Linked DNA regions of Homo sapiens. The protein of the gene in region 1 interacts with the protein of each later gene in a biochemical or structural test. Each region holds a gene or a part of one and is shown on either strand. Other genes may lie near its edges. The genes, in order: PSMB7 and SERPINA10.

Evidence for each region.
Region 2: of the proteins of PSMB7 (region 1) and SERPINA10, one has a biochemical effect on the other in vitro, tested with the Homo sapiens proteins (one study listed by BioGRID).

The regions. Positions count from the first base shown.
Region 1 is NC_000009.12:124,352,965-124,356,958, forward strand, and holds the end of PSMB7 (proteasome subunit beta type-7 precursor), read right to left. Parts: exon of another isoform or gene 3,952-3,994; coding exon 3,800-3,951; exon of another isoform or gene 746-3,799; coding exon 634-745; 3' UTR 501-633; downstream 1-500. UniProt on the Homo sapiens protein: Component of the 20S core proteasome complex involved in the proteolytic degradation of most intracellular proteins. This complex plays numerous essential roles within the cell by associating with different regulatory particles.
Region 2 is NC_000014.9:94,290,269-94,297,168, forward strand, and holds the start of SERPINA10 (protein Z-dependent protease inhibitor precursor), read right to left. Parts: upstream 3,001-6,900; 5' UTR 2,921-3,000; exon of another isoform or gene 2,411-2,920; coding exon of another isoform or gene 2,341-2,410; intron 376-2,340; coding exon of another isoform or gene 326-375; coding exon 1-325. UniProt on the Homo sapiens protein: Inhibits activity of the coagulation protease factor Xa in the presence of PROZ, calcium and phospholipids. Also inhibits factor XIa in the absence of cofactors.

The DNA.
Region 1 (3,994 bases):
GTGAAATGATCATGTCCTACTTATTACAAAACCGTAACCCCAAAACATTCCTTTTATTTCTGTGAAACCGGCCAAAGTGAGGTCCACCCACCTTCACACAGCTCTGGCGGTGCACCTGCTCACCTTCTCTTGGTTCTCAGAACTGAGCTGGGCTTGAGAACACAGCTTTGGCTTTGCCATTTTTTTCCTACTTGGCTGCTGAGGTGGAGGGTGTGCTGCACTTATCACCCCATTTCAAAACCAAACCAAACCTGAGGCCACCCCAAACAAATTCAGCCAGCAAAAAGGGTAGGTATCGATGGTCACCTGAAGCCTCAAGGGAGTCCACTCTGACTTCTGACAGCAGACAGAACCTATCTGTCCTCAGGAGGGGCGCATGGCTCCTACGCTCTCCTCTGAGCCTAGGCCAGTGCTCAAGGAGGATCAGCACCCTGAAGGGCCAGGCCAATGGCCTTAGCAGCCCCCTACTGCCCCCAAAAACACCACACAGTGCCCAGACCTCAGCTGCCCAATTTGGTTTTTGTTTTTTATTGAGTTGAGTTTCATTCGGCAAACACTAGCCACATGAGTGTCTTACTGGGCCTCAATGCTCACCACCTTCCAGAACCGCGGCCAGCCACCCACTGATGCCATTCAGGAAGTGTCCATTGTTTGGACTGTTTCTTCCAGCACCTCAATCTCCAGAGGAGTGATTTTCTCAGTGAGGACTGCAGTAGTCCCTTTCTCACACCTGTACCGGCCAAGCCTAGTAAGAGAAAAACAAAAGCACAGAGTTAGGATTCTCCTCAAGGTGCCAGAGGGCAGAAGACAGTGAAAATAAATATTCAGGCAACGCAGTGAGCAGGCTGGACTGGAATCTTGGCTCTCCCGATCCCAGCTCTGTGATCTTGGGGGATTCAACTTCCTCAGTTCTCAAGTGCTGCAAAATGGGGGTGCCTGGGAGGCAAAGAGTGTCATTAGTGAACACGGCACCTGGCCCTTGGTGGACACGTGACTCTCCCCCCACCCCACCATCCCCACAAGTGCTGGGAAGCACTTGGTCCCTTGACATCAATCTTCAACCTCCCTACAATACTGTTCAGGGACAGCAGGAAGCAAATCCCATCATTACACAAGAGAAGGGCATGATTGCTCTTCCGTGCAGCAACAAGAATGACTTAACTGTTACCTTAGACACTGCACAAACATCTGGAAGCATAAACAGTGTAAAAAAAATGTGCAGCCAGACTCTGGGCTTGTCATTTCAGACCACTCTCAAGTCTCAAGAAAAGTTAACTGTCCCTTTCAGGGACACAGTGGGTCCCCACTAGGACACACCCAACACCTTCTTCCTGGAGTGAATCTGGCAGAGGTTTCTTTGAGCACCAGACTGTCTAGAAGATATGTATTTGGGCTGTTAATGCTCACAGTGGGTCAGGAATTAGGATACTGTCAAATGGCAGCACACAACCAACTGTTCCTCTGCTCTAGCCCCAGCTGGGGTAATATCTCTGTCAAACTTGCTGTCCTTCAGGAACTGCCAGAAGGCTGCTGGCTGTGCCATGGCCTTGTGCTCCCGGAACACCCATCCTCTCCCCTGGACACACGGGCTAAAAGAGGGAGCAGGAAGCAGAACAAGGAGGGCAACTTCCACAGTTCTGCATCCAGGTCAGGAGCACGGTCAGCCCAGAGCGGCCTGCCTTTATGCTGCCAAGCCTCCCCCGACCCCCACCCTCTTAAAGAATCCAAGCAAAAGTACCTTTGAACAATGTGTCCCCACCCCATCAGTTTGAGGATGCCCCTCATCCCTCACACGCTGGAACCTTGGTGGCAGCGTGCAGTCTTAGAGCCAAAGTCCCACGTGGCCTCTGTGTGCCTGACTCCTCTGAACCACCCCTCAGTGTCTCCGGGAGGCTTGGACACACAAGAGCCTCCTCACCACTGTGGTGACAGTGCCCGATTTTTGCGGCATGCATTCAGAGCTTCCGCCTTACGTGCCAGTGGACTGCAAGACCGTGTGCTGGAGGGCTGCGGGCAGACAGGCAGCAGGGACTTGCCAGGCAAGGCCCACTGGCGCATGGCACGGGATGCTTCCTCAGGCCTATCGCCCTGCCCGCACCCTAGCATCCACCCTGGGAAGGGCTCCCCTAACTCAGGCAGTGCCCCCATCTTCAGTCACTGGCAAAGAAGACAACAGAGTCCAGGGAGCTTGGACACTTGCTGCCCTTGGCCCCAGGACACCGATGGGGAGCAGGCTCCCTGCAGGTTACTGCACACCCACCACACGCCCAGCAGCTTCTGGGTCGCCTTGCTGATTCTTCCCAAGCAGCCGCAAGGCGGTTTTCTTTTGTTCTTGGGTGTTTAGAGCCTCTGTTTACAAGTGGAGCAGCCCATGTCCCAGGAAGTAGGATGTGCCACTGCTGCACTCCCTGTGGATGAGGACTCCTGCGCTCAGCACAGGTTCCCTAGGCAACCACTTCTCACTGGCCCAGACGTGGCTTTCAGAGTCCTCGCCCAGGACCCTGGCCAGCCTGAATGGTGTAACCATTCCCTACCCCATCACCGCTTCACCATGGACTTGCTCAAATCACGCATCTTGCAAAATAACCAGCGAAGCAGGCTACATGGAGTACTTGGCTCCTGCCTACCTGGAGCTCGGCAAAGCCCGGTTCCCCAACACAGCTCTGGGCCTGAAAGGTGGCTTGCCTTCCTGCTAAAGGCCCGAGGGACTTCGTGGGCTCATTAGAGGTCATCTGGTTTAGCTCCATTTCCAAGACAGACTGATTTGCTGGAAGCCACCAAGCCAGCCACCAACACTCCCCAACCCCAGTGCCAGCGTTCTCTGGCCCCGTGCTGCCCCACCCCATCAGGAGCCCACTGAGCTTCCGCAAGGTTGAGTGCAGCCCACAGTGAATACCTGCTGGTTCTGAACGTTCCATTCCTTCCTTGTGAATTACTCCTGATGTGGAGTTGTGTGTGCAGTGGGAGATGGAAGCAAGCCTGCAGAAGGTGGTGCTCACTTCCTCGGGGCTACCGTGGAGCTGAGTGGGAGCCGTAGTTTATAAATGCCCTGTGCTGCACCCAGATGCTGCAGCTGGAAGCAGCACTCAGGGAGCCCATCCTGACCTGCCCGGGCTCCCAGAAGAGGTCAGGAGCCACAGGATGGTCAAGCAGCCGGACAATCACGAGACACTGCAAACGAGCTGCTCCTCTGACACATGCTAGCCACCAGGTTTGGAAACCTCCCAGTTCTGCTCAGCAAATCAACTAGAACCTTCTCCCACTGCTCTGAGTCTGCGCTGCACCACTGAGCCGAGGGGCCCACTCGGCATGTAGGCTCAGGCTCAATGGCACAACTCCCTGTAGCACAGCACACACACACTAGCTCCCAAGGCCACCTCTGGGAGGCTGTTAGCATTGCTGACTTACACCCAGTTAGGAATCTCGGGGCACTCTGAGGGAAAGTGCTGGGGCTGCCCTGAAAAATGCACCTTCTCCCAGAAATCAGGGGATTCTTTAAGACACTTGAGAAAGGACAGCAGATGATCCAAACCTCTCCGGCCCCACCTCCCAGCCTAGGGCTCTTTCCTGGGCCACCCTCCACCTCTCCCATCAAATTAAATCACTTTCCTACACCTGACAGCAGCCCACTGTCATAAAGCAAGTAACAAGCCGAAGGTCTGTGTGGGAGGTTGATTTGGGAACACTGGATGTACTTAATGTGGAAAGAACCAGGAAAACTCCATCCAGATGCCATGGAGATACCAAGGGTGGCCACGACGCCAGGGGACCCAGGAAGAACTTCGTCTCCTTCACTCACCTGGTCCCCTTCTTGTTGGGCACTGTGTATGGGCGGAGAAAATCCAGCTTGTTCTTGCTGATGACGCAGAGGTCAATGTTGCTTCCGGAGCCCAGGTCGTTGAAGATGCCAGCTGCGATGGCTTCGCTCACCAGATTCTTGGCTTCCTCCTCCTGAGAAACAGAACGGCGGCAATAATGTCCCCGGCCAAACTAG
Region 2 (6,900 bases), on another chromosome or scaffold:
TGGCCAAGGACATGCCAAATGGAGAGAAGACCATGTTGCCATCGTGCCTCATGGAGATCTTTCGCAGCAGGCTGAATCCGAAGTTTGAAGTCTCCTTGGCAAGCTGCTGCCTGCTGGCCATCAGCCAGGCTTTCTCTTCCTCACTGGCCTTCTCCTCGCTGGCCTCCTGCTCATCTTCCTCTTCCTCCTTGGGAGCCTGCACTACCCTGCTGGTCTGGTTCTGAGGGGCTGGGGTCTCTGGCGACTGAGGACTGGGGGCCAAGCCGGGTACCAGCCACACCTGTGCCAGGAGGACGGAGAGCAGGAGACTTGGCACCACCTTCATGTGATCGGCTGCGGAGGCCAAGGAGTGCCTCCCTTCAGCTGCAAGACTTCCTGTGGAGAGGAGAGGATAGAGATGGTTTTAATGCCTCCTAAAATGTCTTTGTGGATAGTAAAAGCTTCTTCAGGGACCCTGCCTCCTTCCTGTGGCTCAAGTAGGTTAGCCCTGCCCCAGGGAGACCTAGAGCAAGTGTGGGTGACATTTGCTCACCCAAAGAGGGGACATTATTTCACAGAGCAAAACCTCCTCCAGTTCCCATTCCCTGCCAGGCCGGCAGGCAGCTCTCAGTCCTGACCCCGTTTTCATTCATCCCGTCTCCTCCCTGAGGGCCAGGGCAAGAGAGTCCACTCTGGGAGCAGGAGGCAGCACAGAAGGTGGGGGTCCAAGCAGGTGGAATCAGGGGTCCTCACACACCTTTCCTTGATCTGCTTCATTCACTGCCCTGACCATCTGGTCGTCAGGCTGCCCATCCAGATGGGTGGCCGGCCTTGCCCAGTGCCCTGTTTGGCTGGGGATTGGAGTGCCTGCATGCCCGTTAGGCAAGGAAGGGGGAAAGTATTGGAGCTTTCCTGGATTTTTTATCAAAATTCTCTTTGCACTGCACCTCTGCTACACAGTTCCTTGGAGGTCTTCCTTCCTTCCTTCCTTCCTATAGCTGCAGCTCCCGGGTAGCAGGAGGCCCCGCAATTCATACAACCCACTTCTGGGCTCCCTCCACTGTGGCTTCATAGAGCCCTCAGCCACCTGGGCTGCATGCCGGTTCTCACTGTCCTAGGCTGCAGTGTGGGAGCTACACTTCTTCACCGTTAGCTGTCCCCTTCTCTGTCGCCTTTTAGGCTCCCTCCACATCCTTGGACACAGAGCCTGGCTCCTGAATACTTCCATGTTTTCCATCCAAATACATGGCTTGGGACTGGCCTGGGCCACCTGGCTGTGTCCAAACTCAGTTCTGGTGTTCAGCCACACTGCAGGCCTGATCCCAGAGGCTGGCTGGGCAGAACCCCTGGGACACCTGCCCTCCCTCATCCTCTCTCTGGGCCCACTGCCCTGGGAGGGTCTGGGTGGGGTAGGCCACCCAGCCCAGTGAGCGCAGGGTGGATGCTGCCGGCCTCACAGTAGTTCCCATCAGCAGAGACCCTTATTCTTGACCAAGGTCACCTGCGGCAAAATGTATTGACAGGCGGTGCTGCCAGGCCTCTTCCTGATGCAGGGGCTGAGTCCTTATCTATGCCTGGGACAAAACCGCCTCCAGCGCCAGGGCCCAGCATGTTGCCCCTTGCTCGGGCTGAATGGCACCCCGGAATTCAGGGCCTCACTCTGCAGTCTGAACGGCACTACCCTCTCCCCTGTAGAAGCAGTGAAATACTTCCACTGTGTTTCCCAAAGGACACTGTTGAGGAAGCTCTTTTTGACTCTAAATGGCAAGCCTGCATTCAACAGGTCACCCAAGTATTGTAAACGTTGGGTAAATAGCTCTTTCAGTGTAAACGCAGCCCAGTTTCACGCTTTTATTGTTATGGACTGAATGTGTCCCCTGAGAATTAATAAGTTGAAGCCCGAACCACCATTGTGATGGCAATAGAGTTGGGGCGCTTGGGAGGTGATTAGGTTTAGATGAGGTCGTGAGGGCAAGGCCCCTGTGATAGCACTAGTGCTGTCATAAGAAGAGAGCAGAGTCCCCCTCCGCACCTCCTCTCCATGGGAGGACACGGTGCGAAGGTGGCCATCTGCAAGCCAAGAAGACAGCCCTACCAGAATCCGGCCACGCTGGCACCCTGACTCGGACTTTCAGCCTCCAAAACTGTGAAAAATCAATGGCTGTTGGAGCCACCCAGCCTGTGGTGTTTTGTTAGAGGAGCCTGAGCTAAAACGATTACGTGGCATCATTTAGTGCTACTTTCTACATTAAGACCACACAGAATACTCCTGAATTCAAGGTTACTTCTCCCTGTACAATGGTCAGGAAATTAGCCCAGCACGCCAACTAGATGTCACCACCTCCAAATGCTGAGTCTTACCTTCCTGTTCTTGGAGCTTGTCCTGCAGTCTGCAGTGGTAGCCCAGTAATTCCTGGGTGCTCCTGGACATATATCGCCTAAGGTCTTTGTAAAGTCTTTGCTCATCTACCCAACCCTTTGGAGTCTAGGCCAGGAGCTCAGGGGGTGCTCCTGGACTAGGACACCATCCAGCATGGTGAGGACGCACCTTCCTAGACAGAACCTGGGCAGTAAGGAATCACCAGCTCACCTGCCACTTCTCAGCCCTGGGACAGCACACATCCCTGCCTCCCCTCAGCCCTGGGAAGGGGAGACCTGCTTACTCCGGCAGTGAGTGGTGGTGGGTGAAATATCAAGCCTTTCAAGCCTCTTTCCCTTGGCCTCCTTCCTGCAGAGGAGCCCCTTGTGTCTATAATTCGCCTCTTACCCCACTCCAGCTCCCAATCTGTATGTACAGTCCCTGTGGAGTGTAGGATGGAGGTCTTTGCACTGCTCAGCCACACAGCCCTCACGTTGGAGCCCGCCCAGGGATGATACCATCCTTCCCGGTCCCTCCCTGATTAGACTCATTGAAGGTCTCCTGTAACCCACTGCCTCTTACCAGTGTGTGGCCTTGGGTCCTGGAAAAGTCCTTCATTTAGAGCAGAAACCAAAGCTTCAGCTTTGCAGCCCAGAACCTTCAGCAAATATTTGCTATTCCAAAGTATGATCCCCTGTGGGACGGTTACTGATTAACATCCTGCTTGTGATGGTGGAGTTTCTGGAAAACCAAAGACCAAGTGGGAGGCTTCCCATACTCCCCAGCTCCTCCTATAACCCGGAATATGACCCAAATCCCATCACGAGAGCTTCTGCCTTGCAACTCAAGGCTTCGCCCCAGTAAGATTCAGCTCTGTCTGGGTGGGGTGTGGGGAATTTGTCTTGAGCTGTTCTAGGTGCTGAACACCTCGAGAAAGAAGGCACTGGGGGATCCCATGGATGCTTCCTGAGTCCCCAGCCTGGTACTGGACACTATGAGGATGTGGGTTGGGGGGCACAGCAGAAATGTTCAGGACCTGTTCTCTCAGCCCCCAAGGAACTGGTCAATCCAGTGGGGGAGGCAGACAGGTAAATCACTACTTAGAGTACATAGCTCCTTTCAAGGTAAATTTCCTGCTTCACAATGTTGCTGGACTTGAGACTGAATCCTCGGGCACTCAGAGTTGAGGCTGGTGGAGACCGTTTATGGCAAAACTTTTCAGACTTCTCAGACTCTCTTTTTTAATATATATAAGTAAATATTTTGTTATGTGCCCCTTACTACTACCATTGAAGTGAAACGTATAGCTAATATAATCTACCCACAAAATTAAAAAAAAGATAATGCTGTAATGATAATATGGAGGCATAATAAAAGAGAATAATGTGTCCCTGAATATGGCAGTGCTGTGGCCTAAGGGCCTGGGCAGGTGCAGTGAGGCTGTCCAATGTGGAGCCCACGGGAGGTCGCTTGTGTGCTGCTCACTGCTGGCCGGTGAACAAGAAAACCAATGGTACTACCAGGGATAGAGCTTTTGAAATGGTAAATAATGCTTGGTAAAGTTTCAAACAAAATAAAATATAGATCTTTCCCTGATTTACACGGTCATTGTCTTCACAGAAAATGCAGTGTGTAGTAAAACCTTGGATAAATATTATATTTTTATATGAAATAAAGCAGCCCCAGGACTGACAGTCTAGGCTCAGATAATCCCACGTGAACTTGAGGTGGACATGTGAGTCCTGGGGAACCCGGCGGCCTCTTCATCATGGGAGACTGCCCTGCGTGTTCTGGTATGTCTGGCATTGCTAACCCTCAATCCTTAAATGCTAGTAGTACTCCCCCCAAACGTTTGTGAAAGGCAGAAGTGTCCCAACAAGTTTCCAGAGTGTTCCTTTTGGGCAGTACCTGCTCTGTTAATAGGCAGTTCTTTAAGAGGTGAAAGTGAGGGTGTAGAGGGGCCAGGCTGGACTCACACCACGCACAGGAGTCAGCCTTTGCCTGCCCATCCAGGTCGAGCTCTGCAGCTGCGGGCTTGTGGATTCCCAAAAAGCAGGGGCTGTTTCCTCCAGGCCTGGGAAGGTGTCTGCTTTGCTAAATGTCTGAGCGGAGCCAGCGAGTGTGCAGGTCTTAGGGCACAGGGTTTCTTTCTTTTTTTTTTTTTTTTTGAGACGGAGTCTCTGTCTGTCACCCAGGCACTGTCTGTCTCAGCTCACTGAGACCTCCACCTCCCAGGTTCAAACAGTTCTCCTGCCTCAGCCTCCCGAGTAGCTGGGATTACAGGCGCCTGCCACCACGCTAATTTTTCTATTTTTAGTAGAGACGGGGTTTCACCATATTGGCCAGGCTGGTCTCAAACTCCTGACCTCGTGGTCCTCCTGCCTTGGCCTCCCAAAGTACTGGAATTACAGGTGTGAGCCACCGTGCCTGGCCAGGGCACAGGGTTTCAGAAATGGATCCTTATAAAGGAAGGCAGCGGAGTATATTGGGAAGATTGTGAAGGCTTCAGCCAGGCCATTGCCTCCTGCCCTGGTGTGAATCTGAGGTCCTCTGCTCCCGGTTCCTAGCTGCTGGGATGTAAGTTAACCTCACCGAGCCAGCCTTTCTTCCTCTGTTAAGTGGCCAGAACTCAGACTCTGTCCTATGAATATCTCTGCAGCACCGAGGAACCAGGAAGGGGGTGGACGATTTTGCTCCTAAGGCTGTGAGCCCTGGACCCCAGGGTGTGGCTCAGAAGTCCCCCTCCTTCAGGGAGGACATTATTCCTGTACAGCTCCCAACAAGGGAGCTGCCCACTCTTTGACCTTTAGCCCTCCAGTTAGATGGGAAAGTGAGAAAACTCAATGCATAGCACTGTAGCCTGAGCTCTTTTACCAGCAGCATGACCCTGAACAAGCTACCTAACCTCTCTTAGCCTCAGTTTACTAATCTGTAAAATGGGGTGCCCCAGGCTGAGCTGTTAGGACTTCTGAGAGGATGAACTGAGGTGGTGCCTGTGGAGTTGAGTATCTCGCCCGGTAGGAAGGAAGTGCTAAAGGAATGGCATTTGTTGCATAATTTTAGAGCCAGATTGAACCTCAGAAGTAAGTAACCCTGTCCCCAGGCTTTGATTTTATAAAGGAAGATATTCAGGCCCCACCATGAAGGCCTTTCCTGCTAGAGTTAAAGCAGAATAGACCAGGCTGTCTGACTTCCAGTTGTTATGAACTTTAGCTTCTCACACTCCTTGGCCAAAAACGATTGGGAAAGCTCTGACGGGAAGGCCTCTGGTGATCCAGATAAACTCATAGGCGATGCAGAACCCTTCCTGGAACTCCCCTCAGGCAGGAGGCACAACTTCTGAAAGCCACTCTTCAGGGCGACATCGAGGGGCTTCTAAAGCAAATTTGTCCAGAGACCTACAGGGTTAAACGTCTGAAAAACAAGCGTTAGGGCAGTCCTATGAGACCAAAAGCAGACTCCAGGAAACAGTGAGAGAACTGCAAGAGTTTACTTTGTGTGGATCAGATGAAGGGGGTGTTTGGGTAGGTGGGTAGTAAAGGAAACCAGACTATGTTACCCCTTGATATGGTCTGTCTGTGTCCCCACCCAAATCTTATCTTGAATTGTAGCTCCCATAATTCCCACGTGTTGTTGGGGGGTACCCAGTGGGAGATCATTGAATCATAGAGGTGGTTTCCCCCATACTGTTCTTGTGGTAGTGAGTAAGTCTCACGAGATCTGATGGTTTTATAAGGGGATTTTTAAGGGGAAATTCCTTTCGCTTGGCTCTCATTCTCCCTCTTGCCTGCTGCCATGTAAGACCTGCCTTGATTGTGAGGCCTCTCCAACCATGTGGAACGGTGAGTCCATTAAACCTCTTTTTCTTTATAAATTACCCAGTCTTGGGTATGTCTTTATTAGCAGTGTGAAAATAAACTAACATACCTCTAAATATGCCTTTCTGATATAAAAATTATTTTTGAACTGAAGGTAATTAAGAAACAGCAAATGGAGAAATAGTTTTCTCTATCTTTCCCCCTTTCTTCCTAAAGACAGATAAAAATTCATCTTTACTGGAAATGACTCTAGACTCTTATCAACCCAGAGATGGCATCAGAGGAATATGCAAACAAGCCTTATTCCTTTAGTTTCCTCCCATATATTTACCTTCCATGATTTCCTGCCCTTGGAAGCATAAAACCACTTCCCTTGTCCCGATCCATGATTTTCCTGCTAATTTATTGCTCTTTACTAAAGGTAAGTGGAGTTCTAAGGCACCATTTTGAGTTACTTTTCATGCAGGTTTCTCCTGTGTGAAGTGCATGGCCCATGTTGTAAGCTGATTTTTCTCTTGTCTGTCTTTTGTTACAGGAGTCTATCCCAAAAAAGAACTAAGATGGGAAGAAGTCAAGTTTAGCCTCCCCCCACAGTAGTACAGAGGTAGGAAAAAAAGGGCTTTCCAAGTCCTTGCAACATACACACACACATATGCACATGCACACACAGGTGCAAATTTCTCGCTGATTTCCAGACATCCCTCCTGCCTTGAACTTTAAAGACATCTTTCTATTGTGTTATGG